Regions from separate parts of the Homo sapiens genome. Here region 2 is linked to region 1. The links come from fine-mapping of genetic effects on gene expression. A gene starts in region 1. The other region holds a variant in brackets. All regions are shown on one strand. Distances are between the middles of the regions. Region 1 holds the start of PIAS3 (protein inhibitor of activated STAT 3). Region 2 overlaps TXNIP (thioredoxin interacting protein).

Region 1 (12,466 bases):
CTTAACAATATAACCTTGAGCAAGGCTCAATCTCTCTCGGCCTCAGTTTCCTCATGTGTAATGATACTACCTATCTCATAGGGTTTTTTTTTTTCTTTTTTTTTTTCTGGGTGAGTGTCACTAGCCAATCATAGGATTATTTCTTTTTTTGAGACAGGGTCTCAATCTGTTGCCCAGGCTGGGGTGCAGTAATGCAATCATAGCTCACTGCAGCCTCAAACTCCTGGGTTCAAGCCATCCTCCTGCCTCAGCCTCCTGAGCAGCTAAGACTACAGTCATGAGCTATTATAACATGCCTGGCTAATTTTTTTAATTTTTTATAGAGAGAGGGTCTACTATGTTGCCCAGGCTGGTCTCAAACTCCTAGCCTCAAATGATCTTCCCATCTCAGCCTTCCAGTGTTGGAATTACAGGTAGGAGCCGAGTCCATAGGGTTATTGTGAGGATTCAATGAGATAACTCATGCAAAGTGCTCAGCAAGATGCCTTGTATATACTAAGTCCTTAATGTTGCCCTCCCCCTCCACACACATGCACATACACACACACACACACAGACTGGTAAAAGGGATAGATAAGGTGAGAATTGCAGTTCATGTGAGGGGAAGTAAGCCATATGAATTAAAAACCCTGAAGGAGGTGGTGGCTAAAAGAAAAAAGAAATATTATAGGCTGGGCATGTTGTCTCATGCCTGTAATCCCAGCACTTTAGGAGGCTGAAGTGGGCAGATCACCTGAGGTCAGGAGTTCAAGACCAGCCTGGCCAACATGGTGAAACCCAGTCTTTACTAAAAATACAAAAATTAGCCAGGCATGGTGGTGGGTGCCTGTAATCCCAGCTACTCAGGAGGCTGAGGCAGGAGTATCGCCTGAACCCGGGAGGTGGAGGTTGCAGTGAGCCAAGATTGTGCCACTGCACTCCAGCCTGGGGAACAGAGTAAGATTCCATCTCAAAAAAAAAAAAAAGAAAAGAAAAAGAAAAAGAAATAACCAAGAAAAGAGGTTCTAGTGGATGTCCTAGGTAAGAGGAAGCAAAATGGCCCTACCCATCAATGATAAGAGATTCATAGGGAGCCTTCTTGTCACACACAGGACATGTCCATGTAGGCTTCTTCTCATTCATCTGTAGATAAAGGGCAGCATCGAAGCTCTGCAGGTGGGCGCAGGTGAGGGCACGACAAGGGACAGTCAGGCGCATCTTCCCTAGCTGAGGAGAAGCAAGTTCTCTTGTCAGAGGCCCTACTCTGATTTCATCCCAGAAAACTTCACGCCAGTATCCCTAGGAACCCTCATCAAAGTCCACAGGCTAAACCCAACTCCCTTCCCACCCTGTTCCCTTCTCCCCTTTTACCCACCGGGCACATGAGTGACACCCGGAGACTTGTAGTGGCCACCTCACTGTCAGGGTCAGCAGTCAATTTCTCCTTGACTGAAACAAAAGTGAGGCCAGAGCCATGGGGTCAGCAAGGCTGGAGGAAGCCCAGGAGTTGGTAAGGCCAGGAACAGATGGCTCTGGCTGAGAGGCTGCTGGGTGGAGCGTCTTTGGGGGCCAGTGGGACGTCACATGGAAGTGGTCTGGGATATGGATGATGAAGGCTGGGTGTGGGGGATTTTCCCATCCCTGAAGATGCTTAAACATAGCGTGACACTCTGGCTATGTTAGAGATGATCTGGAGGAGTTGAAGCATCATGTGAGGGTTAGATTAGAGGACCCCTAAGATTCTTTCCAGTCCGGAGAGCCCATATTCTAGCAGGGCTGGAGTTAGGGACTGTGAGGTGCAAAGCAGATACATGATTGGAAATTCAAGGGTGCCTGGGAGTGGTCCAACTTCAACTATAAAGACTGGAAGACTGGTCAGGGGTAGAGGGGGAGGGTTGGGGTTCATGTGAGAAGGGGAGTAAGTTGTCAAAAAAGAGGTATGGGTTTAATTATGAAGGCTGGAGGGCCAGGAAGACTTGAATCCAGATCAGGTGGGGAAGAGAGGAAAGATGTTACTCACTCAGTGCCCGCGAGTGGTCTGGGTTCCGGATACCCTTTGCTCTGAGTTTTTGTAGAAGGGTTCCTGCAGTCAACTGCCTCACCAGGTACACAGACAAGGAGTAATTCTACTTGGAGGCAGGGGGTAGACAATTAGCCTCTGCTTCTCATACCACCACTGCCCACTTTTGTTCCATGAGGACCAGAGACAGACTCATAAAGAGGAAAATGCTTCCCCAACCCAGGACACTGGATGGTTCCCCTTCACCCTCAGCAGGCTTTTCCAGGCACCTGCTTTAGCTGTGCTCACCCGTCCGAACTCAGATGACCAATTGACCACAATGGTGTTGGGAACAGTGGCTGAGAGTCGAGCCAGGGGTGTGATGTTGATGGGGCGGCTGGGCCTCTTGGGCTCGGCCCCATTCTTGGTTGGGGGAAGGTAACCCTGGAGAAGGGAGGGATTGGTCAGTGGAGAAGTGGCTCTGGGAAGGGGCTCTGCTCTTTGAACAAAAGATATCTTGTCTCGGGTTATTCAATCCCTGGAGGGAAGGCCAACTCGCTCACTCACTGACCAAGGGGATGGAGGCCCATTCAGTGGCTCACAAAACTGGAGCACTGTCTAGGGTTATGTGTGGGGTTCACTCCTGGGGAGAAAGGAGAGCTTATTTATTGACTGAGAAAAAAGGAACTCACTGAGTCCCTGAGGAGGAGGAATAAGGATGCCTCACCTTTTCTAACTCTCAGCTCTGGGGTCAAGTCTTTCTGGCCGGGTGTACTGGCTCATGCCTGTAATCCCAGCACTTTAGGAAGCCGAGGTGGGTGGATCACCTGAGGTCAGGAGTTCGAGACCAGCCTAGCTAACATGGTAAAACTCCGTCTCTACTAAAAATACAAAAATTAGCCGGGCAGGGTGGTGGGCACCTGTAATCCCAGCTACTTGGGAGGCTGAGGCAAGAGAATTGCTTGAACTAGGGAGGCAGAGGTTGCAGTGAGCAGAGATTGCACCATTGCACTCCAGCCTGAGTGACAGAGCGAGTGACTCTGTCTCAAAAAAAAAAAACAAAAAAGAAGTCTTTCTTACATCTCGGGTTGAACTAATGTCCTCCTCCGAGTTCTCACAAAACCTTTGTTCAGCCCTATCTTAATACTCTCGAGATTCTATTGATTCAGTCAGTAAACTGAGCACCTACTATGTGCCACGCACTGTGCTAGGCATGTCTCTTTCAGAATAGGTTTGTAGTTAATATTTATGAACTGAAACGGTAAGGGATTACTGACAGAAGAAGGGGAGAGCATTTACCGGCAGGGGGCACAGTTTCCCATTGACCTTGACAAAGAGGTTGGGGGGAAAATAATCTTCCTGGGGGCAGCTGGTCTCACAGAGACAGAACCTGGTAAGAGATGAGAAAGGAAGAAAGAGTGGGAAGAAATTTCTTAACTTGAATCTGGCAGAGAGACAGGGAACCCCAGAAAATCAGTCATAGATGCCTGAAGCCCTCAGCATCCAACAAGAGTCGCAGGGCTGCAGTAGGCAGTGGCAGAGCAGGGACATCTCGTAAGGGTATCTGTCATACCCCTACTTCACTCCTACCCCCAGTGGGTACCCAGGATAGGCAGGGAGGATGAACTCACCTTAGCTGCACCTGTATGGTATAATCACATTTGGCTCCTGGCAGAACCTCTCTGTAACAGGGAGGGAGATGAAGAGATGTCAGCATGTAGCCCCCAGAGGGCAAGGGTGAATGCACAGAAAGGCTGAAAGTCAGATGTCCAGGAGATAGAGAAGAGACACACAGAAGAACAAGAGACAAGTAGGTATAGGAGGAGGGATAGGGAAGAGCACAGGGCAGAAGAGAAGAAAGTCAGAAAGCAGAGACCAGGGATGAGGCAGGAAGACTGGAAGAGATGTACCTGGATGTAAGAATCTGCTGCACTTGCTGGGGTGTGAGGGCAAAGGTAAAGTGCGCTTCCTCAAACCGCTGGCTAGAAGTGGATGCTGAGGATACAAAGGGGCAGTTATTCCAAGCCCATGCACAGGCAGCCACAGAAATCGCCCCCATCCCAGGTCACTGATCCCATAGGACTAAAGCCTAAGAAATGTTTGGGGAACAGGTAGGGAGTCCAGAAGACTAAGGGACCACAAAGAGCCATACCAAGGGTGGTGGGCCGGATGAGCTCCCCATAGACTTCATAGAAGGGCAATGGTTTCATGGTGACATCAGGGTGCACAGGCTGGGGCAGAGGGGGGTGCATGTCCACCTCACGCTTGGGGCCCAGCAGGGTGCCAGGGGCCAACAGCGTTGGGGGAATGGGAGCTAGAGGACCAGGGGAGCCTACAGGAGAGGTGCCAGGGGGCAAAGAGAGAAGGGAGAGATCAGAGGGCCCCAGGGTCTTCCGGGGAAAGCGTCGTCGGTAAAGCTCTTTGATCTTCATCTGGACACTAGGGGCACAGCTGGACTTCAGGAGGTGCAGAGCCTTGGCCAGGAGCTCGTGCTTCCGTCCACTCTTGTTCCGGCCAGCAAAGCCAAGAAGCACCTGGAGCTCAGACACCCGGAAACTCATCACCATGTGCTGTGGAGAAAAACAGAGAAGCTTGAGCATCCTCCCTTGCACAGGCCTGCCCTGCCAAGACATGGGCTGAGCTACCAGGTGGGCAGTGCCTTTCTCTCCAGCACTGATGGGAAAGATGATGCTTCGCAGCTAGTGGATTACTGCCAGGTAGTCGACCTATCCAAAGGGACATCTCAGTCCCACTTTAGCAACCATCAGGTCAGCATCATCACCACCACCCCCGAGCTTGAGCAACACTATTTCCCCAGGCCTGGAAGCAGCCAGAGTGGGGCAGGGAATGGCAGACAGCAAGCCACCCTCAGACACACCTCCGAGTCCATGCAGCCTCCCGCCTCCATCCCTGGACTCTGCTTTAAGCTGCTTATCTCCTCTCTTGCCCTTTCTCAGACTCTCAAACCCATCCCAGCCTCCTGGGAACAGGATAGGAGACAGGGAGAAGGAGGGAGAGACAAGAGGATTCAAGCCAGACAGCCCCACGGGAAGAAAGGGGCTAGGTGGCTGGAGGATTGTGCCCTTCAGCCCACCCCTCCCAACCACCTTAATTCACCTCAGCTATTTCCCCCAAGCCTCTGAAGCTTCTGTGGCCAGGGTTTTCAGGTCAGGGTTCAATGCTCATAACTTCCCCAGATCCTTTCTTGGAATCGTTTATATAACCACCCCCTCCCCACAACTTAGTCCTATTTTTCTGGAAGGGAAACAGGACCAAAACTTGGGTCGGGGAGATTAACAGTGAATCACTGAGTCCAAGTATCCTGCCTGTTTACTCTATCTGCCAGGAACCATAATCTGGCATCTCTCCTACACAGAGAAATTAATACTCCTCTACAACTTACAGCGCCCCCCTATAGGGGTGGAAGAGGAGAGGGCAGAGCTCTAAACAGAGACCCTGGGTGGATGAAGGAAAAGCCTCTGAGTCAGGGCACAGAATCGCAAATCCCCTGAAGGTAGCTGGGCCCAGTGGCTAGACCTCCAGCCTTCCCAGGACCATAGCTCCCATTTCAAAGGGCAGAAGAAAACCAGGAGGCAGGCGGATGAACTCGGTAGTTTGAGGTTCTATGAGATGTCCTCAGATGTGGTCACCCTCCAAACTCTATGTAGCAGGAGGGGAGCGCTCTCCTTAGAAGACTCCCTTCTGTGAATCTCTAGGAGATCCTGTCATGTGCAGGGCTTGCTAGCCCTACACAATTCTTCTCATAGGAGGCTTTGTCTTGGACCCCTTTTATGGAATGTGATGAGAAACTTGCTCCTCTTTCTCCCCATCCTTATCTCCTCTGTCCTGTCTTTTTTTCTCCATTAGCTTCCCCTATAACTTCCCACCTTTCTATCCCATAGTTTCACATGCCTCTGCCTCTTCCCAAACACCGCGATTCACTACGGCAGGACCTTCCTCTGAGCCTCCAGGATGCTTCTGCCCCACCCCTCGAGGTATCGGCCCGCACAGCCCCGCCCCCTGCATCTCAGCAGCCTACTGGTATTTCCCAAAGCTCGGATCCCGAGAGTAGCCCCAAAGACCCTATCCTCTCAGCTGCCTTTCCCCCGGAGCCTCCCCTACGTCTGCCCCGCGGTCCCATCCCTGCATGTGCCCCCTACTGTTGCATCTCTTGGCCTTGATCGACTCGCCCCCAGTGCCTCTACAGCACCTTTTCCCCCTGGCCCTACCCCAACAACCGCCCCTACTACTAAATCCGACTTCTACCCCTCGTCCCCGCCCCCTGCGCCTCAGCCCCCAACAGCTGCAATTCCCCTCGGCCCCACCCCTACATCTGCCCCGCAGCCCCGCCCCCGGAGCCCCGCCGCAGCCCCTTCCTCGCTCTCAGCTACTTCTCTCCCATCCTCAGCAGCTCGTGCCTGCCACGTCGTCGGCGCCCACCCGAGCCCCGGCACCCAGTCTCGGTCGCTTCCCGGACACGGCGTACCGCCGGGCTGAGTCCAGATGGGGATGGGGGGAGGGGGCCGGTACCTTTAATTCGCCCAGCTCCGCCATCTTGAGACATCGCAGGCGCCCCAGCCGGAGCCGGAGCTCAGGCCCAGGGACCGGCGCACAACTCTCCACCCTGGCGCCGGCCGCAAATGCCGCCTGCTCCGCCCAGTCCGGCCCCCTATACCTCCCCTTCCCGGCCCCGCCCGCCTGGCTTCGGACAAGCCCCAGCCTGAGCCCCTCCCTCCACAGCCGACCCAGCAGCTACACGTCTGCGGCCGGTTGGCAGGACGCGTAGCCCCGGAGGGAGTGTATGGCCCCCAAGATCGCGGGGTCCCTAGGGCAACGGGGAGGAGGCGGGCCCGAAGTGCCTGGTGGAGGGGGGCTTTGCCACGGCAGAGTTGGGAGGGGACAAGCTTTTAGGGAGCCAAAGATACTTGAAAGATGGAGGGAAAGTATCGGGAACTGCTAGAGCTCAGAGAAATGGGGGAGGGGGTAGCGAAGTTGGAGCGCAAACCCTCATCTCCATCTCTGCATAAGTTTAATCAACTAAAATCGAGAGGTCTTCCAACTCGGGAAATGGGCGAGCGCTGATCCGTCTTAGGGAAGCCGTGGAGTCGGCATTCAGTAATTCACCCTCTCCTCCTCCCCCATACACCAACTACAGTGCAGCTCGTGGTCCGATCGTAGGACTCAAACTCGGCAGCAAAAAAAAGTTTGGTGCGGGGAGCGGGACTTACCAGCACAATTGTGGGAAATGGAGAGAGGGCTCGGGAGGCTCAGAGGGCGAGCTGGAGAGGTGGGGGAATGGGGCTCGGCGCTGCTCCTGCTGTCCGCACGGCAGAAGTTCGGTCCAGCAGCCGGACGCGGCGGCCGCGGCTCCGCCCGGGCCGGAGCTCCGCCCGGCCTAGCGCTCGGGCTGGGGCCGCCCCCTCCAGGGGAAGCCCGCCAGGACCGCCAAGAGGGAAGGGGGGCGGAGCTCGGGCGAGAGAGGGAGGGACTCAGAGCTCGACGTTGGAGAGATTAACTCCTGGTGTGAGTGGATCTGGAGAGACGAGATCCTTGGATCCCATCATTCTCACTACCTCTGTGACCCCTCAACGCTTACGTATGGGATTGGGGTGGTGGCACACTGCTGCTAAGCCGGTGTGAACCAGGTATCTGACAGTATAAAGCAGTCTTCCTTGAAATGACAACTGTCCCTCCCTAGGGCAAAGCCTGGGGTACTGAATCCAAAGTGTACCTAACAGTAACTACCCTAGATACACGTGCAGAATACCTCCACCAGAGCCCCCATACCTTTGGTGTAGCTGAAGATGAACAGAGGGGTTTTCTTACCCACAAAAGGGATCTTTCTGTCCCTCTCTGAACTGCCTACCCACTCTCCTTCCTCCAAAGCCTTGGACCCTCCAGAGGCCCCATCCCAACCAAGCTGATCACTCACATGCAGGCACCAAATTAAATCTGTTTCTGTATCCATGGAAATACCTATTTTTTTATTTTTTTGGGGGGGGACCAAGTCTCACTCTGTCACCCAGGCTGGAGTGCAGTGGCGCGACTTGGCTCACTGCAACCTCCGCCCCCCGGGTTCAAGCAATTCTCCTACCTCAGCCTCCCGAATAGCTGAGATTACAGGCCTGCGTCACCACGCCCGGCTAATTTTGTATTTTTAGTGGAGACAGGGTTTCACCATATTGGCCAGGCTGGTCTCAAACTCCTGACCTCGTGATGCGCCCGCCTCACCTTGGCCTCCCAAAGTGCTGGGATTACAGGCGTGAGCCGCCGCGCCTGACCCAGAAAATACCAACTTAAGGGAAATGTACCCGCACTACATACTGAGAAACTCACAGCATTTTATAGTTGGCTGCAATTTGTTCAATAAATATTTGAGTGCTTATCAGGGATCATTAGGTGCTGAGGACATAAAAGCCTTGCAGGAGTTCACAGTCTAGCAGCAGAGACAAGACATGTTAAACCTATAATCAGCACACCAAAAAAGGGCTTTAATAAATAGGAAAAATCCTTTTATTTAGCTTAAGCCTTCAGTATAATCCTCCTCATAAGACCCTACCCAGGCCAAAGATTGAAGGTGCCAGTTGAACTGGAACTAGGCCCAGTTACTTTGTGGTTTTTGTCCCTAGGGAAGATGCCACCCTCTCCTAACACTCAGGTTCTTTCCTTGCTGCTTTGCTACCCAAATTGGTGAGCGCTTCAAGCTAAACTCAGACTCAACTAGTTCTAAATTCCAGCTGCTCCCTTCCAACACCTGAGTCTTCATCAGGTCCTGAGATCTTTTTTGCTGTTGTTCTGTTCAGTCCTCTAGATCAAAAGTTACTATAGTTTGTATTTCTAAGAATTTTCAGTAGTTGCAGGATGAGGAAGGTAGGGAGGATTATTAAAAAGAGACAAAGCGGGGATCTTTCGGAAGTGATGGATATGTTCATTATCTCGATTGTGTAATGGTTTTATGGGTGTATATGCATATGAAAACACATCAAATTGTATACTTCAAATACATGCATTTTACATGGAGAGACATATTGACGTATATCAGTTGTACGTCAATAAAGCTGTAAATGGCCGGGCGCGGTGGCTCACGCTTGTAATCCCAGCACTTTGGGAGGCCGAGGCGGGCGGATCACGAGGTCAGGAGATCGAGACCACGGTAAAACCCTGTCTCTACTAAAAATACAAAAAATTAGCCGGGCGTGGTGGCAGGCGCCTGTAGTCCCAGCTACTCGGAGAGGTTGAGGCAGGAGAATGGCGTGAACCCGGGAGGCGGAGCTTGCAGTGAGCCGAGATCGCGCCACTGCACTCCAGCCTGGGCGACAGAGACTCTGTCTCAAAAAAATAAAATAAAATAAAATAAAAAATAAGTAAAGCTGTAAATGCTGGGCACGGTGGCTCACGCCTGTAATCCCAGCACTTTGGGAGGCTGAAGTGGGCGGATCACCTGAGGTCGGGAGTTCGAGACTAGCCTGGTCAACATGGAGAAACGCTGTCTCTACTAAAAATACAAAAAAGTTAGCCAGGCGTGGCAGCGCACGCCTGTAATTTCAGCTACTCAGGAGGATGAGGCAGGAGAACTGCTTGAACCCAGGAGGCAGAGGTTGCAGTGAGCCGAGACTGCACCACTGCACTCCAGCCTGGCACAGACCAAGACTCCATCTCTAGATAAATAAATAAATAAATAAATAAATAAATAAATAAATAAAGCTGTAAACATTTAAGAGAAAACCTCACCTTGAGTTCTAGTGATTTCATGAAGGAAGAATCTCCTTTAAAAGTTAATTTGGGCCAGGTACGGTGGCTCACGCCTGTAATCCCAGCACTTTGGGAGGCCGAGGTGGGCGGATCATGAGGTTGGGAGATCGAGACCATTTTGGCCAACACAGTGAAACCCCGTCTCTACTAAAATACAAAAAATTCGCCGGGCGTGGTGGCGTGTGCCTGTAATCCCAGCTACTTGGGAGTCTGAGGCAGGGGAATTGCTTGAACCCGGGAGGCTGAGGTTGCAGTGAGCTGAGATCGTGCCACTGCACTCCAGCCTGGCGACAGAGCAAGACTCCGTCTCAAAAAACAAACAAACAAACGAAAAAAGTTAATTTGAAGGCCAGGCATGGTGGCTCACGCCTGTAATCCCAACATTTTGGGAGGCCGAGGCAGGCAGATCACTTGAGGTCAGGAGTTCAAGACCAGCCTGGCCAACATAGTGAAACCCCATCTCTACTAAAAATACAAAACTTAGCCAGGTGTGGTGGCGCATGCCTGTAGTCCCAGCTACTTGGGAGGCTGAGGTGGGAGAATCACTCGAACCAGGGAGGCAGAGATTACAGTGAGCTGAGATCACACCACTGCACTCCAGCCTGGGTGACAGAGCAATAATACATCTAAAAAAAATTAATTTGAGGTTACTAAAGTTATTGAAAGAGAGAAAAAATAAATTGGAAAAAAGTTAATTTGAGGTTATAAGTTCTAGCATCCCTACAGGATGACGGAACCGGGGAACCTGAATCTTATCCTGCATGCAAGCTCCAAAAGGATAAGAAGGTTTTCTGTGCTGCCTCTACTCTATTCCCAGTGCCTGACAAATAGTAGACTCCTTAAATATCTGTTTAATAAATTAATGTTACCAAAGGAGGGAAACTGTGAATCAGAAGCAAAGTTCCAGATTGAAGGCATTCAAAAACATAGTCTGAACCTGATCATGGCCCATCGGGTTTCACCTACTTTCACCCACATACTCCTACATCTCAAGCCTGGGGAATGGGGTGGGGAGATGAAGCAGGAATCATAAGTCCCTGCTAAGTCCCATTAGAGAGCCCAGGAGGAATAAAGGGAACATTAGGATTATAGCTACTTTGGGGAAAAAAATTTATGAACTCAAGAAAAATTTTAAGACTGGGGCTGTTGAGGTAAGTTTGTGGAGTTTTAGGGAGGGAGACTGGGAAAACCAGGGGCTAAGGAAGTTTCTACTCCTGTGTTAACATTAACATCACTCACCACTCCCATAGCTCAGCCCATCCTGGAATCAGTTTCCAGGAGCCCCGGAGGGAGCCAAAGTCCTGGCTTCCATTACCAAAGCTGCTTCCTGACTCATTCTTGAGTTTAGCCCAATGATCTCCCCCTTTCTGGACCCTTCTCTCTACAGTTTCTTCATTCTCCCCACCCCACACGTCATATATAACAAGAAATGTAATAGTCCTTTAATATACATTGGTAATTGAGAGCAGGAAGGCAAGGAGAGGTTCTGTTCCCCTTGATAGAAATGACTCAGACCCTTTTGATGATCTTTCTTCAATAGCTGCACCTCTTCCCCCTTTCTCCATCAATCCCTCCTTTTTCCATTTTCCTGGCCGTAAAGCAGTCCCGTGCCCATCCACGTAAAACCTCTGCACCTTCTCTAGGATCTGATCCAGATATCTCAGATGCTCTTTTTCACTCTTGGCCAAACTCTGGAGCTGGCCTCTGCAGCCCTTGTGTAGCCCCCTGTCTTCCATGGCAGCCCCTCCCCACTCTTTTTTCTCAACCCAGCCTCTTTACTGCCAAAACTGCTGCTGTCTGACCCAGTGTAACCAAGCAGAGGGTGGACTGAGAGAAGGAATGGGGAGGGATCAGCGTGCGGGCCACCAAACTGCAATTCCAGATTTTAGAGGAATTCACTGCCTCATTTTCACCTAACAGCATGCCTGGTGGAAGGGCAGGCAGAGGAGGAGACCCAGGGGAAGTGGCCAAGAGAGATACATTTTTTTTTTCAGTCTGAGAATGGAATCACAGGCAAAAATGAAACTTGGGTATCCCTTCATCCTCTACCCAGGAATCAGACTTTTCATCCCTTTTGTCACCTGGGACAAAGAACAGTGAGACCATGTGTGTCAAATATAGACACATTGTTTAACACTTGATAAAATACTTTAGAAAGTATATCCTGAAGAAAATCCAGGTCTCTCAATCTCCCCTTAAAAAAAAAAAAAAAAAAAAATCATGGATTCAACAGTCCCAAGGCAGAGAAAAAAGATTAGAGCTGTGACAGATTCGAGAAAGTGGAAAGGAAGAGTGTCAAACCCCATTTTCACTGAGGGCTATTTTTCAAACCGTGGGTCTTGACCCATTAGTGGATGCATTTTGATGGAGTATATTAGCAAAGAATAGAAGAGAAATAGTAAAGTATTATTCGAGCTATGTATACACAAGATACAAAATGTATTTCTTGGCCAGATGCAGTGGCTCATACCTGTAATCCCAGTACTTAGGGAGGAGAATCACTTGAGGACAGGAGTTTGAGACCAGCCTGGCCAACATGGCAAAACCCTGTGTCTTCAAAAAGTACAAAACTTAGCCACGCATGGTGGTGCACGCCTATAATTCCAGCTACTCAGGAGGCTGAGGCATGAGAATACCTTGAACCCAGGAGGCAGAGGATGCAGTGAGCTGAGATCACACCACTGCACTCCAGCCTGGGTGACAGAGTGAGACTCTGCCTCAAAAAAATTTTTTTTT
Region 2 (12,466 bases), 130 kb after region 1:
CTATTTTGTGGTCCTAGTTTCACCACTCCATAGCTTCGTGCCCTTCAGAAAGTCATGTATGTCTCCACTCCTCAGTATTCCTCATGTGTGAAATATAAATTTGGACTAGATGTGTCCACTGGGAGCCCTTCTAGCTCTCACATAGTAGGGCTTATGCTGATCCATCTGTAAGAATTCAAATGGGCCTGAGAACAAAGGCAGGATGTGCCTAGCTTTGGCTGAACACATTCCATTCGCTGGATTTCCCCACTTTATTTTCAGCCTAGGCAGACTAAAGATACCTCAGGCATCTGGCCAGTCGTTTCCAAGAACCTGCTTCAGCTTGGGTAGCAAGAAGATCAACAATTCCATCAACTAGCAAGAAAGGGACACCACCTACAGCAGAGTTCAAGGTCACAATCTGCAAGCCAGGACTCAAATCAAACAGGCCACCAGTAGATTTCTGACTGAAGAAGGGGCTGGTGGGCATGTCCTCTTCATCTCCCCTCGTATGTCATGTCCAGCCAGAGGATGGAGAAGAGAAATGAGCTCAACGAGAATAGCTCCACTAACTAATCTGGCCAAACCAGTAGTGACCTCTTCTCCACTGACCTTTCCCCTTCTGGGGCTCACATTTCCTCAAGGTCATTTGGGACCACAAAACTGGAAATAAGTTCCAGTTTCCTGCTATCACCTCAGAAAGGCCTTTGGCTCATCTCCAATAGACTTTAATTTGCCTCTTTGTATCTAGGAAAGAAGGGAGGTCCCCCTCATAACCTTAATGGGGGTCAGTGGGAAGACAATGATCCAGCTTAACTGCGGGACCGTAATGGCTAGGTGCTCTCACCTTGGGAATCCAAGATGTCAAGATGCTGGGGAAGGAATCCAGAGATTCCTTAGGCCTGATCCCAACCAATGCAGGAAGGGGCTAGGTCCCCACGACCTCAGAGTCTGGGATTATTCTCCATTCTCAAACCTCTCCTCCTCCCAGGATCCTCAGCTTTGGGCTGTGCTCCCAGCCCTTTCCTGAATAGTTCCCATCCTTGTGATTCCACATTGATCCTGGTTTACAGTAGAGAAAGGGGGAAAATATCCAAATCCTGTCTCTGATATTCTTTGGTACACTCAGGGCAGTGCTGATAATATTAGATTAGGAGGGAGGGAGTTAGACCTATTTTTGTCTTACCAAAAGGGGTAGGTGGAAGAAACTCACCTAAGTTAGGGATGTGGATTTGAGGTATTTCCTGTCTTGGAGAGAATAGGTAGAGTCCCATTTGGACAGGGAAAGAAGCCCTGGTACTCATCCTCCTTAGGCTCTGGTATGACCAGAGATGTAGCCATTTTGGAGAAGAAATTCCCTCTTCAAAGGAGGACAATTTAATGCTTGTACCTCATTTTTCTTAGGCAGAGTGATAAGAGGAAGTGACACAAAATGGGCTCAGTGGGAGAAAGGGCAAATGCTGATCAGCCCTTTTCTAAGTCTTCCATTTCCTTTCCAAGCCTCTTTCCTGGCACACCTAGACAATCTTTCTCATCTGACCATACTTGGCTGCTCTGGATCCCTCACCTCTCCCTTACTTGGCTTGGCTCCTGTTTTGGGTCTTGCTTTCTACCCTGAGCCGCCACACTAACACCTGTCCAGAGATATCAGGGATGTTTATACACTTCTCAGTGGCTGGACTGGGCCAGGCCTGGAGGGTTGGCTGAGGACCAGACAGAAAGCTTGTCACTCAGACTCATTCTTGTTGTTTTTCAAATTCTTTTCCTCTTTTTGACTCTTTCTCTGTGTCTTTTCTCCATGTCTCTCTTTACCTCATGCCTTTATACAGTGCTGTTTAAATTGGATTATTCCTAGGGTGATATGGTGAAGACTATTTGGAGCCACAGAATACACATGGCACATCTTCCAGAGTGTTAATTTTACTTTTAAGATTTGGTGGGGGAAGATAAATCATTTTTATGCTAAAACCAACACAAATATATTATGCAGTGTAAATCAAAATTTGCATTTTTTAAAGAAAATAGGTACTTCAAAGACATTTCTGGGTTATGACAGGCTACTTTAGACTGCTTTGGGAGTCCTGGGGGAAAATGGTTCACTCTCTTGTATCTTAGGGGTCCTGCAGAAGAAATATTTGAGAAGCTCTACTTAGAGCAGAGGTAACAAACTAAGACAAACCTAAACACTAAACAGGAGTCAGGCAGATATAAAAGATCGAAGCATGTGAGTGTAATGCAATAGGGAGTGGTGAGAACTGGCAAACCAGAGCCTGTCTAGCCCCTTCAGCTCCAGCTGATTAATGCCATGAAAGAATGTGACTCAGTGTTACCAAATATGATTGCTTTTTAAGAGACACCAGAACGGTAGATGTTAGTGAAATCTGATTTTTAAATGTTTACAACCGATTCAAATGTTTAGGAAAGGAAATACAGGTTTATTTATTTATTTATTTATTTTTAATTTTTTTTGAGACAGAGTTTCACTCTTGTTGCACAGGCTGGAGTGCAATGGTGCGATCTCGGCTAACTGCAACCTCCGCCTCCCAAGTTCAAGCAATTCCCCTGCCTCCGCCTCCTGACTAGCTGGGATTACAGGCCTGCACCACCATGCCCAACTAATTTGTATTTTTAGTAGAGATGGGGTTTCGCCGTGTTGGTCAGGCTGATCTCTAACTCCTGACCTCAGGTGATTTGCCTGCCTCAGACTCTCAAAGTGCTGAGATTACAGGTGTGAGCCACCGCACCCAGCCGGAAATATGGGTTTCTAAATGTCTGCAAGCTGGTTTGGCCTATGGGCCCCTGATTTGCTGCCTCTGGCTTAGTGTTTCCTCCAGCTTTGCTTAGGTTCATCATCAGCTAAAATCAAGACAAAAGAAGAGAAACATGAATCACAGTGTGATCTCCCTTCCCTACCTAAGTCCATCTCCCCACCAGCTTCCCGTCAATCTTGGAGCACTTGTGTCAGGGATTTTCTCCTCCAACCACAAAGCAGGGTGGGCACTATCAGAAATGGTGTTGAGATACAGGAAAGAACAAGAGGAAAGAAGAAAGCAGTCTTTGGATATAGAAGGGTATTCAGTTTAAAGGGTATTCACCAGGGGAAGATGAAACCCCAAATAGGGAATTATCATAATTTTTGTCTCTCCTTCCTCACTTTCATTCCTAACCTCCAGGCCTCCCTCACAGTCAAAAAGATATTCTGAACTTGCTAATGATCGACCTCTCTCCCAGCCCTTCCACCTTCCAGGTGACCTAATTTTCCCAAACCAGAGATAGCAGATCTTGCCTTGTCAGACTTGGTCACCATTTCCAACCTCTCTGACCTTCACGATCATTTCTTCTACTTTCCAAAAGTATGTGAAGCACAGGCCTGGGCTTGCAGGGTGTCAAATTCTGTTCCCAAGAGTTGGGGGCAGTGGGATGCATGAGTTTGCAGGAGAGTTTGAAGCTGTCCTGCGGGACAGCTTGAGGAGATAGAACTGCAGAGAAGCCTCTGAGTACTACTGGCAGAGCTACACCTATCTCCAGGGGAAACAAAGGAGCCATTGGCCCCTGCCCAACCACCCTCTTCCTGATCTACAGGAATCCAGAGGTAAAACAGAAACCAGAGTTTCCTCAGAGTTGGAAGGTGAAGCAAGCATGAAAGACAGGGAATAAAGAGAAATGGGAGAGCAGGAAACAAAGGATTAACCCTGAGTCTGGCTAGATGAAGGAGGAAGTCAGAATCTGAAGTGGAGAGGGAGGGATCTTTAGCCACAGAACCATATAAGGGAAGCACAAATGTTGGCCAGGCGCGGTGGCTCACGCCTGTGATCCCAGCACTTTGGGTGGCCAAGGCAGGCGGATCTATAGTGAAACCCCGTATCTACTAGAAATACAAAAATTAGACAGGCGTGGTCGTGAGCATCTATAATCCCAGCTACTCAGGAGGCTGAAACAGGAGAATCACTTGAACCCGGGAGGCGGAGGTGCAGTGAGCCGAGATTGCGCCATTGCACTCCAGCCTGGTGACAGAGTGCGACTCATCTCTTAAAAAAAAAAAAAAAAAAAAAAAAAAAGGAAGCACAGTTCTTATGCCCCTGAATACCTCCTCCCCTCTCAGCAGCTGAAATCCTTGTTCTATCCATCTGTCCAGGAGGTTAAAAATATCCAAGCTGGGAACCTAGCCAGACATTTCCAAGAACCTGTTTACTGACCATTTGATTAACTTTGATTGTCAGCAACTTCATAGCCCAACAAGGACTGAGAATGGACGTTGCCTAACATCTCAGGACTCAGGGCACATGGAATTCACAATCCTGTACCTTTGTTTTCCCTGTCTTCTTTCTCCCATCACTCTGTTGCCTGGAGATGACCAATCAATTGATAGTCAAAGTCTGTTCATTCTTTTCTCCTTACATAACAGGCCCAGCAGAGAGTAGGGAAGGGTCAAGCAAAGGGAAAGGTCGGGACAGAACAAGAATAGCCTAAATAGGCTAAACTGGGCCTCATCCGTGGACTCACCTCCATTGACCTTTGTGCTCCTCAGTCTAGTCCACCCCACAGAAAAATCAAATGGAATGCAATACCTTGAAAGAAAAAGTCTGGAAGACCTGTGGCATCACATTGTATATCCAGCACTCTCTGTTCCTCAGTTTATCACTCCAAATGGTGGGAAGCTTTTCTTTGGAGTTGTGTACTGAAAAGTTAAGAAAGTTCAAATAATTTTTAGAAGGTTACAGGGTTTAATCCACAGGCTTGTGAAGCACACTGGAAGTGTGAAAAAGAACACCCTGAGGCTAAGTGGGTGCTGTGGCTCACTCCTGTAATCCAAGCACTTTGGGAGGCCGAGGCAGGCGGATAGCTTGAGTCGAGCTGTCTGGAGTTCGAGACCAGCCTGGATAACATGGTGAAACCTCACCTCAGCTAAAAATAAAAAAATCAGCCAGACATGGTGGTGCATGCCTGTAATCCCAGCTACTTGGGTGGCTGGGGCGAGATAATTGCTTGAACCCAGGAGGAGGAGGTTGCTGAGATCGCCCCACTCCACTCTAGCCTGGGTGATGGAGTGAGACTCTGTCTCAAAAAAAAAAAAAAAGAAAAAGAAAGAAAGAAAGTAAATTAATCAGGGGGGTAATGAGGGATATGTCTCTTCTTTTATTTTAGATAACAATCACTTATGTGGCATTGTTCTAAATTTTACATATATTTTTAAATTTCTCACAATCTTCTGAGGTAGGCATTATTATTATCTCTCATTTTATAAATAAACAAACTGTTACATAGAGAGGTTTAAACAAGTTGCCCAAGGTCACATAGCTGGTTAAATGGTAGAAGTAAGATCTTAATTTAGATAGTTTGGCTTCAGTGTCCACGTGCTTAACTACTATACTATGCTATTTTTTCTTCCTTTTCCTTTTCTTTTCTTTCTTTTTTTTTTTGTTTTTTTTGGGACAGAGTCTCGCTCTGTCACCCAGGTGCTGGAGTGCAGTGGCATGATCTCTGCTCACTGCAACCTCCCTCTCTGGGGTTCAAGCAATTCTCCTGCCTCAGCCTCCCAAGTAGTTGGGACTGCAGGTGCGCACCACCTCACTTGGCTAATTTTTTGTATTTTTAGTAGAGATGGGGTTTCACCATGTTGGCCAGGCTGGTCTCGAACTCCTGACCTCAGGTGATCCGCCCACCTCGGCTCCCAAAGTGCTGGGATTACAGGCGTGAGCCACCGTGCCCGGCCTATTTTTTCTTAATAGTATAGGAAGACTAATCTTTGGACTTTTTCTGGGTTCTAGACTTACCTATTGTGCCAGGACCTGCAGCCCTGGATCTTTAGCTCTCTGAAAAGGAGTGTTTCAGCTTATGAAATGGAGGTCGATGTGAGGTCACAACAGAGAAAGGACAAAAAAACTTCCCATCCCCCATCCCCAAACTATTGAGGCCAGGATGCCTGGGGGCAGGGACTTGTGATCATTGGAAGGTCAGTAAAATATTTTCCTTATTCACCTTATGCATTTTATCACCTAGAGGTAGCCCAAGAAAATAATTCTAAGAGGGATCTGTAGTCTGTTGAAAGAATTGGGCCAAGGTTGCGTGTGCCTGTAGTCCCAGCTACATGGGAGGTTGAGTAGGGGGAATCCCTTGAGGCTATGAGTTCAAGGTCAGAGTTTGCTATGATTGTGCCTGTGAATAGCCACTCCACTCCAACCTGGGCAACATAGTGAGACCCTCTCTCAAAAAGAGAAAAAAGAATTGTGCAAAGGTCACTCCTTGACTCCACTTCATGCCCTTCAGCTCTTGTGTGATTGTTTTTTGCTGAACATGTGCTTTGTCAGATCCTCCCCTCCACATTTTTCCTTCCCAGTGCCTCAACCCAAGTTAGATCCTTGTGTTTCCAGTCTGTTCAGAGGTATCAATCAAGGCAGCCAATGACTCTGGTTGTTGAAGTACCTGTTTTTTGTTTTGTTTTGTTTTGAGAAGGAGTCTCTCTCTGTCTCCCAGGCTGGAGTACAGTGGCGTGATCTTGGCTCACTGCAATGTCTGCCTCCCAGGTTCAAGTGATTCTCCTGCCTCAGCCTCCCAAGTAGCTGGGACTACAGGTGCCTGCCACGCCTGGCTAATTTTTTATATTTTTAGTAGAGGCGGGGTTTCACCATGTTGGCCAGGCTGGTCTCAAACTCCTGACCTCAAATGATCCACCCACCTTGGCCTCCCAAAATGCTGAGATTACAGGCATGAGCCACAGCACCCGGCCCCTTTTTCTTGTTAATTTTATTTTCTTGCCCTTTTCTCTCTTTAGGTAGTTTTCTTTTTTAGTTCTCTCAGATCTCCCTATACCAGATTAAACCTACTGAATAAATGATACTCAGAACCACATCTCCTCTAATCATTGTACATGTAGGTCATAGCTACTTAAAAATTAAAAGGCACGTGAGAAGAGGATAGGCAAAGAAGACCCAGAATATTCCCCCACTTAAGTGGGGAAATAGCTAAGCCACTCCCCAAGGAAGTGTACTGAAGCAAGCCTGTACGCGGAAAATGTCCTCGGGTGAGGTAGAAGTTGTATACACAAGGCAAAAAGAAGTAGAGTGGAGTTTTTGTGCTGTAAGAGAAGGATAGGTTTCCTCTGGGGGAACAGCTCTAGCTGCTTACTCCCTTAGATTTTGATGTGGTATTCAATATGGCAGTCACTAGTCACTAGTCACTAGTCACATATGTGACAGTCACTAGTCACAGAAAGCTAAAGTTTAATTGAATTGAACAAAATTGGGCCGGGCACAGTAATCCCAGCACTTTGGGAGGCTGAGATGGGCAGATCACCTGAGGTCGGGAGTTCAAGACCAGCCTGACCAACATGGAGAAACCCCATCTCTACTAAAAATACAAAATTAGCCAGGTGTGGTAACGCATGCCTGTAATCCCAGCTACTTGGGAGGCTGAGGCAGGAGAATCGCTGAACCCAGGAGGTGGAGGTTGCAGTGAGCCGAGATCACGCCATTGCACTCCAGCCTGGGCAACAA[GA/G]GAGAAACTCCATCTCAAAAAATAATAATAATAATAAATAAATAATTAAACAAAATTAAAAATTCAGTTACAGGCTGGGCACAGTGGCTCACACCTGTAATCCTAGCACTTTGGGAGGCTGAGGTGGGAGGATCGCTTGAGCCCAGGAGTTTTGAGACCAGCCTGGGCAACATGGCAAAACTTCATCTCTATGAAAAATACAAAAATTAGTCGGGCTTGGTGCCATGCACCTGTAGTTCCAGCTACTAGGGGGCTGAGATGGGAAATCACTTGACCCTGAGAGGTGGAGGCTGCAGTGAGCAGAGATCATGCCACTGCACTCCAGCCTGGGAGACAGAGCAAGACCCTGTTTAAAAAAAAAAAAAAAATGTGTGCACAGCACTTTGGGAGGCTGAAGTGGGCAGATTGCTTGAGCCTAGGAGTTCAAGACCAGCCTGGGCAACATGGTGAAACCCTGTCTCTACAAAAAATAGAAAAAATTAGCTGGGCATGGTGGCATGTGCCTGTAGTTCTAGCTACTTGGGAGGCTGAGGTGGGAGAATCACCTGAGCTTGGGAGGTCAAAACTGCAGTGAGCCAAGATTGTGCCACTGCACTCCAGCCTGGGAGACAGAATGAGACCCTATCTAAAAAAAAAAAAAAAAAGATAAGAAAAAAAATCAGTTTATCAGTCATAGTAGCCACATTTCAGGGCTAGTGGCTACTGTATTGAAAATTTCCATCATCATAGAAAGTTCTATTTGGACAGCTGGATAAAGGATATTAAGGGTATCCGGAGGAGATGCCCATGTTCTGGCCCTTCCAGGATCAGATCTCTTTTTTTTTTTGGAGACAGTCTTGCTCTGTCGCCCAGGCTGGAGTGCAGTGGTGCAGTCTGGGCTCACTGCAACCTCCACCTCCTGGGTTCAAGTGATTCTCCTTCCTCAGCCTCCCGAGTAGCTGCAATTACAGGCGTAAGCCACCGCGCCTGGCCCTAGGATCAGATCTCTAAGAGGCCTTGGGTATAAAGTTATCTATCCTTTCGAAGCCATCCCTCTTCTCATATTGGGTACTGGTAGCCCAACTGTGCACACAACCAGGCTCATGTACTCCATGGTCTCTCCATTCCTTTGTCCTGCTCTCTGGCCTGCTCTTATCATTGCTTCACCCCTCTAGGCCCTGGAAAACAAGCTACAGAAAAAACTTTTCCATCAACTTTGACCTAATTTCCTGGTCACAGATTTGAAGGAGAGGAGCCACTAAATTCTTGCACAGGTGAGAAAGGGGCGGAGAGTTCAGGTGAAAGTCACCCTGGCAATAGGGAGAAATAGAGACTGACACTTTGGTAATGAAAGAGAGACAAAGAGAGGGAGGAGAGTGCTATGGAAAATGAAAGATAAACGAAAAATGAGGATTGAAATGGAAAAGGATCTTTTAAATCTCACTTTCTGTTAAATTCACATTGATTTTAGTTTGCTTATTATTTATTTATTTTTGAGACAAAATCTGTCCCCCAGGCTGGAGTGCAAGTGGTGCAATCATAGCTCACTGTAACCTAGAACTTCTGGGCTTGAATGATCCTCTTGCCTCAGCCTTGTGAGTAGCTAGAGCTACAACACCCCACACTGATTTCATGTAGAATTTCCAGGAGCCTGTTATTTGGAATTAGTTTGTGGAAGTCCTCAGAAAAATCAATTCCCAAATAAGGACCAGGACCAGATCTGTGCAAATATTTAAATTGGCCATCCCAGGGTTTCTCCACCTGTCGGTTCTTTAGGAATGAAAATCACTGCTGGGCGCCATGGCTCACACCTGTAATCCCAGCACTTTAGGAGGCTGAGGCGGGTGAATCACGGGAAGTCAGGAGTTCGAGACCAGCCTGGCCAACATGGTGAAACCCCGTCTCTACTAAAAATACAAAAATTAGCTGAGTGTGGTGGCTCATGCCTGTAATCCCAACTACTCAAGAGTCTGAGGTAGCAGAATCGCTTGAACCTGGGAGGCGGACATTGTATTAAGCCAAGATTGGGCCACTGCACTCTAGCCTGGGAGACAGAGCAAGACTCTATCTCAAAAAAAAGAAAGAAAGAAAGAAAGAAAGAAAATCACACCAATTAAACATGGGATTGTGGTATTACTCTACTACTATTACCCTACAAGGAATAGGAACCATCAAATCATCTAAGGGATGAGGGTGAAGTTGAATAGTTAGCAAACATTTACTGAGTTATGTGCTTGGTTAGGAACTGTGAAAATAAAAAATGGTTAGCTGCCTCCAAAGAATTTAATACTCATAACTCTATAACCTCTTAAGTCCTGAAGTTATCCTTGTTAGTATATAAATCAAGTTTACATTGGGAAGAAACCCTATGATAAAACCATATTGTAAAAAGGGGATCTTCAGCTGAGTGTGGTGTCTCACGCCTGTATTCCCAACTCTTTGGGAGGCCAGGGCCAGCAGATCACTTGAGCCCAGAAGTTTGAGGCCAACCTGGACAACATGGCAAAACCCGAACTCTACAAATAATCAAAAAATTAGCTGAGCGTAGAAAAAACAAACACATACACACACACACACGCACACACAATTAACTGAACGTAGTTGTGTATGCCTGTAGCCCAGCTATGTGGGAGGCGGAGATGGGAAGATCACTTGAGCCCAGGAAATCAAGGCTGCAGTGAGCTAAGATCATACTACACTCCAGCCTGGGTGAGTGAGACTGTCTCAAAAAAAGGAACCGCCACTCTTTTCTTTCAAATGCCCTCATAAACATCATCTCCCTGTATTTCAAGAACCCATGAACTCCAAAACTGAAGGAATTTAGTAATGATTACCTATGGATTTGGAAAACTAGTTTAGACAACCGGAAAATCCCAGTATAGTTGTTCAGTGAATCTGAAACATGCCTCAAACGGTTTCCCTCTTCACCTTCTAGCCCCCACTCTGCCGACATTCCTTAGGGTCCATAGGGAGTGTTTTCTCCACAAGGTTTTCATTAGTGTGGATTGTTAAGTAGAGGAAAACTCCTTTAGACACACCTTCTTTCCAAAAACTTTTCCAAAGCCATCTCACAGACATTTTTTTTTCCATTAAAAAAACTTTATTTTCATTTTTTACAAAGAATATCCCCATCTGGGGTAAAAATATATCTGGTTAAGTACAAAATATAGTCTTTACCATACAAAAAGATACATAATACAAAAACATGAAACCAACCATCTTCAGCCCACACTTTCTGGCTGTAATAACTCTCAGAAAAGGGTGGAGCTCAGTGCTCTGACACAGGACAGTGAACAAAGTGCTATGGCTGAGAGTGACTGACCAAGTGCTGGCAGCTGCAGTGAGGGGCCAATATCCCTATCTCCTAACACAGGGCAGGAAGGGGGTTCAAAGGGCTTTTATGAAGACCTGCCCTCTAGTTTCTCATGGCAGTATTTGGAGGTTCTGATCACAGGGTTGGGCATCTTGATCAAGAGTTCCTCCTTGGGTTTGAAGTCACAGTGGGCAAGGCTGACAGCAGCAACCCTTTCACATGATTTAAGCGTTAGAATTATATAATTCTGTACATTGGGGCAATCTCAAAAGTAGTAAAATTTTTTTTGTCTTTTGGCTTAACCCTAGAGACACAGTAGACCAGTTTCAGCTTACATTTAAGATGGCAGAAGGGGAGAACAAAAAATTTGACAGGAATTAAAGTGCTAAGAACATCACCTTAGAATCAATTCCAAGGACTTACATGAAGAGAAAACCATCCTCCCATATGAAAATATTTGCAGTAGGAGAACACAGTGCAATAGGCTCCAAAAATGGCTTTTAAGACCTTTGGTGGGGCAGTTACTACTGCTTTAAAAGCCAGGTTAAAGTATACTCTAAGCAAAGATGACCGTAGAGCAGCTAGCTTCCTTTTTTATAATCACAGGGAAAGCTCTCTCCATTGTCCATCAAATCAGCTCTAGAAGGTTTTTCTTTTTTTTCTACAAGTGCACAAAGGGGAAACACTGATTTTAAGAACCTCCTTTTCCCAAAGTTTTGGCCACAATTTCCCTTTTCATCTTCCTAGTTTGTTAAATTGGCTCTTCTCCACATGATACGTAAGTTCAAGGTCCAAAGTTCCTATCACAATTTACAAAAAGCCTCCAAAAAACCTTGAAAAGCTTACGCCAGGAGGCCATTTTTACCTGACCCGAAACTATCGAAAAGGCCTCAATTTTCAAGGAGATCTGAGAAAATGGATGGGCCTGAGTTTTTCTAGTTATTTTTAAACCCATCCAACAAACACCCCTGTATCACAACATGGGCGCTGGCTGAGGATGAGTCCGCATCCTTTAAGGCCCAGGAGATTGCCTGCTGACCACCTCCTACATTAGGAAGTCAGAGGCTAAGGTGGACCCACACTCCATTGCAGAGACTGTTGAGTCTCTGAAAAAGTGAGTGTCCAGGAAGAGAGACAAAAAGAAACAAGTAGGTAAAGCTGCTTCTTTTCTTCCACATGCTCACTGCACATTGTTGTTGAGGATGCAGGGATCCACCTAAAGAAAGAAACAGACTATTTCAGTTCAGGTAAGAACAAAAAGAACAAACCAGTTTAGCAATCCGTCTAAGTCAACTTCTTATAGAAAGCTTAGGACAAATTTAACAGTAAAGATGACAATCCTCACCTCAGTATAAGTCGGTGGTGGCATGAACTTGAACTCAGGGGCATACATAAAGATAGGGCTGTCTTGAGAGCCATCCATGTCATCTAGCAGAGGAGTGGTTGGGCTCTCCAATCGGTGATCTTCAGGAATGACATCCATATAGCAGGGAGGAGCTAGAAAAGAAAATATGGCCACATAAGAATCCTGCCCAAGAAATGCTGGACCATCACAATTTTACAAACCCAGGTAGACCAGAAACAAAGAAAAGACATTAGGTCTGGCTCACCTTCTGGGGTATCAGGGATGTTCAGATCTACCCAACTCATCTCAGAGCTGGTTCGGCTGGCCATGCTGGATGTTCTGCTGCTTAGACCTGA

What was found.
Region 2: its variant is fine-mapped to the expression of PIAS3 in whole blood (TOPMed, PIP 0.94).

Annotation. Positions count from the first base shown.
Region 1 is chr1:145,852,459-145,864,924 of GRCh38, forward strand. It overlaps PIAS3 (protein inhibitor of activated STAT 3), which reads right to left and starts at 6,623. Exons shown (of 14, transcript NM_006099.3): 1 at 6,509-6,623; 2 at 4,131-4,548; 3 at 3,889-3,973; 4 at 3,610-3,660; 5 at 3,278-3,368; 6 at 2,288-2,422; 7 at 2,000-2,105; 8 at 1,355-1,428; 9 at 1,046-1,206. The coding sequence starts at 6,532. RefSeq lists silencers at 6,660-6,749, 7,220-7,429.
Region 2 is chr1:145,981,906-145,994,371 of GRCh38, forward strand. TXNIP (thioredoxin interacting protein) reads right to left here. Exons shown (of 8, transcript NM_006472.6): 6 at 12,376-12,466; 7 at 12,111-12,262; 8 at 10,530-11,981. The coding sequence ends at 11,946. Among named protein-coding and RNA genes, the nearest start is that of TXNIP, 8.4 kb to the right of the region's middle. RefSeq lists an enhancer at 10,803-10,882. The variant GA/G (reference allele first, on the strand shown) is at 7,473.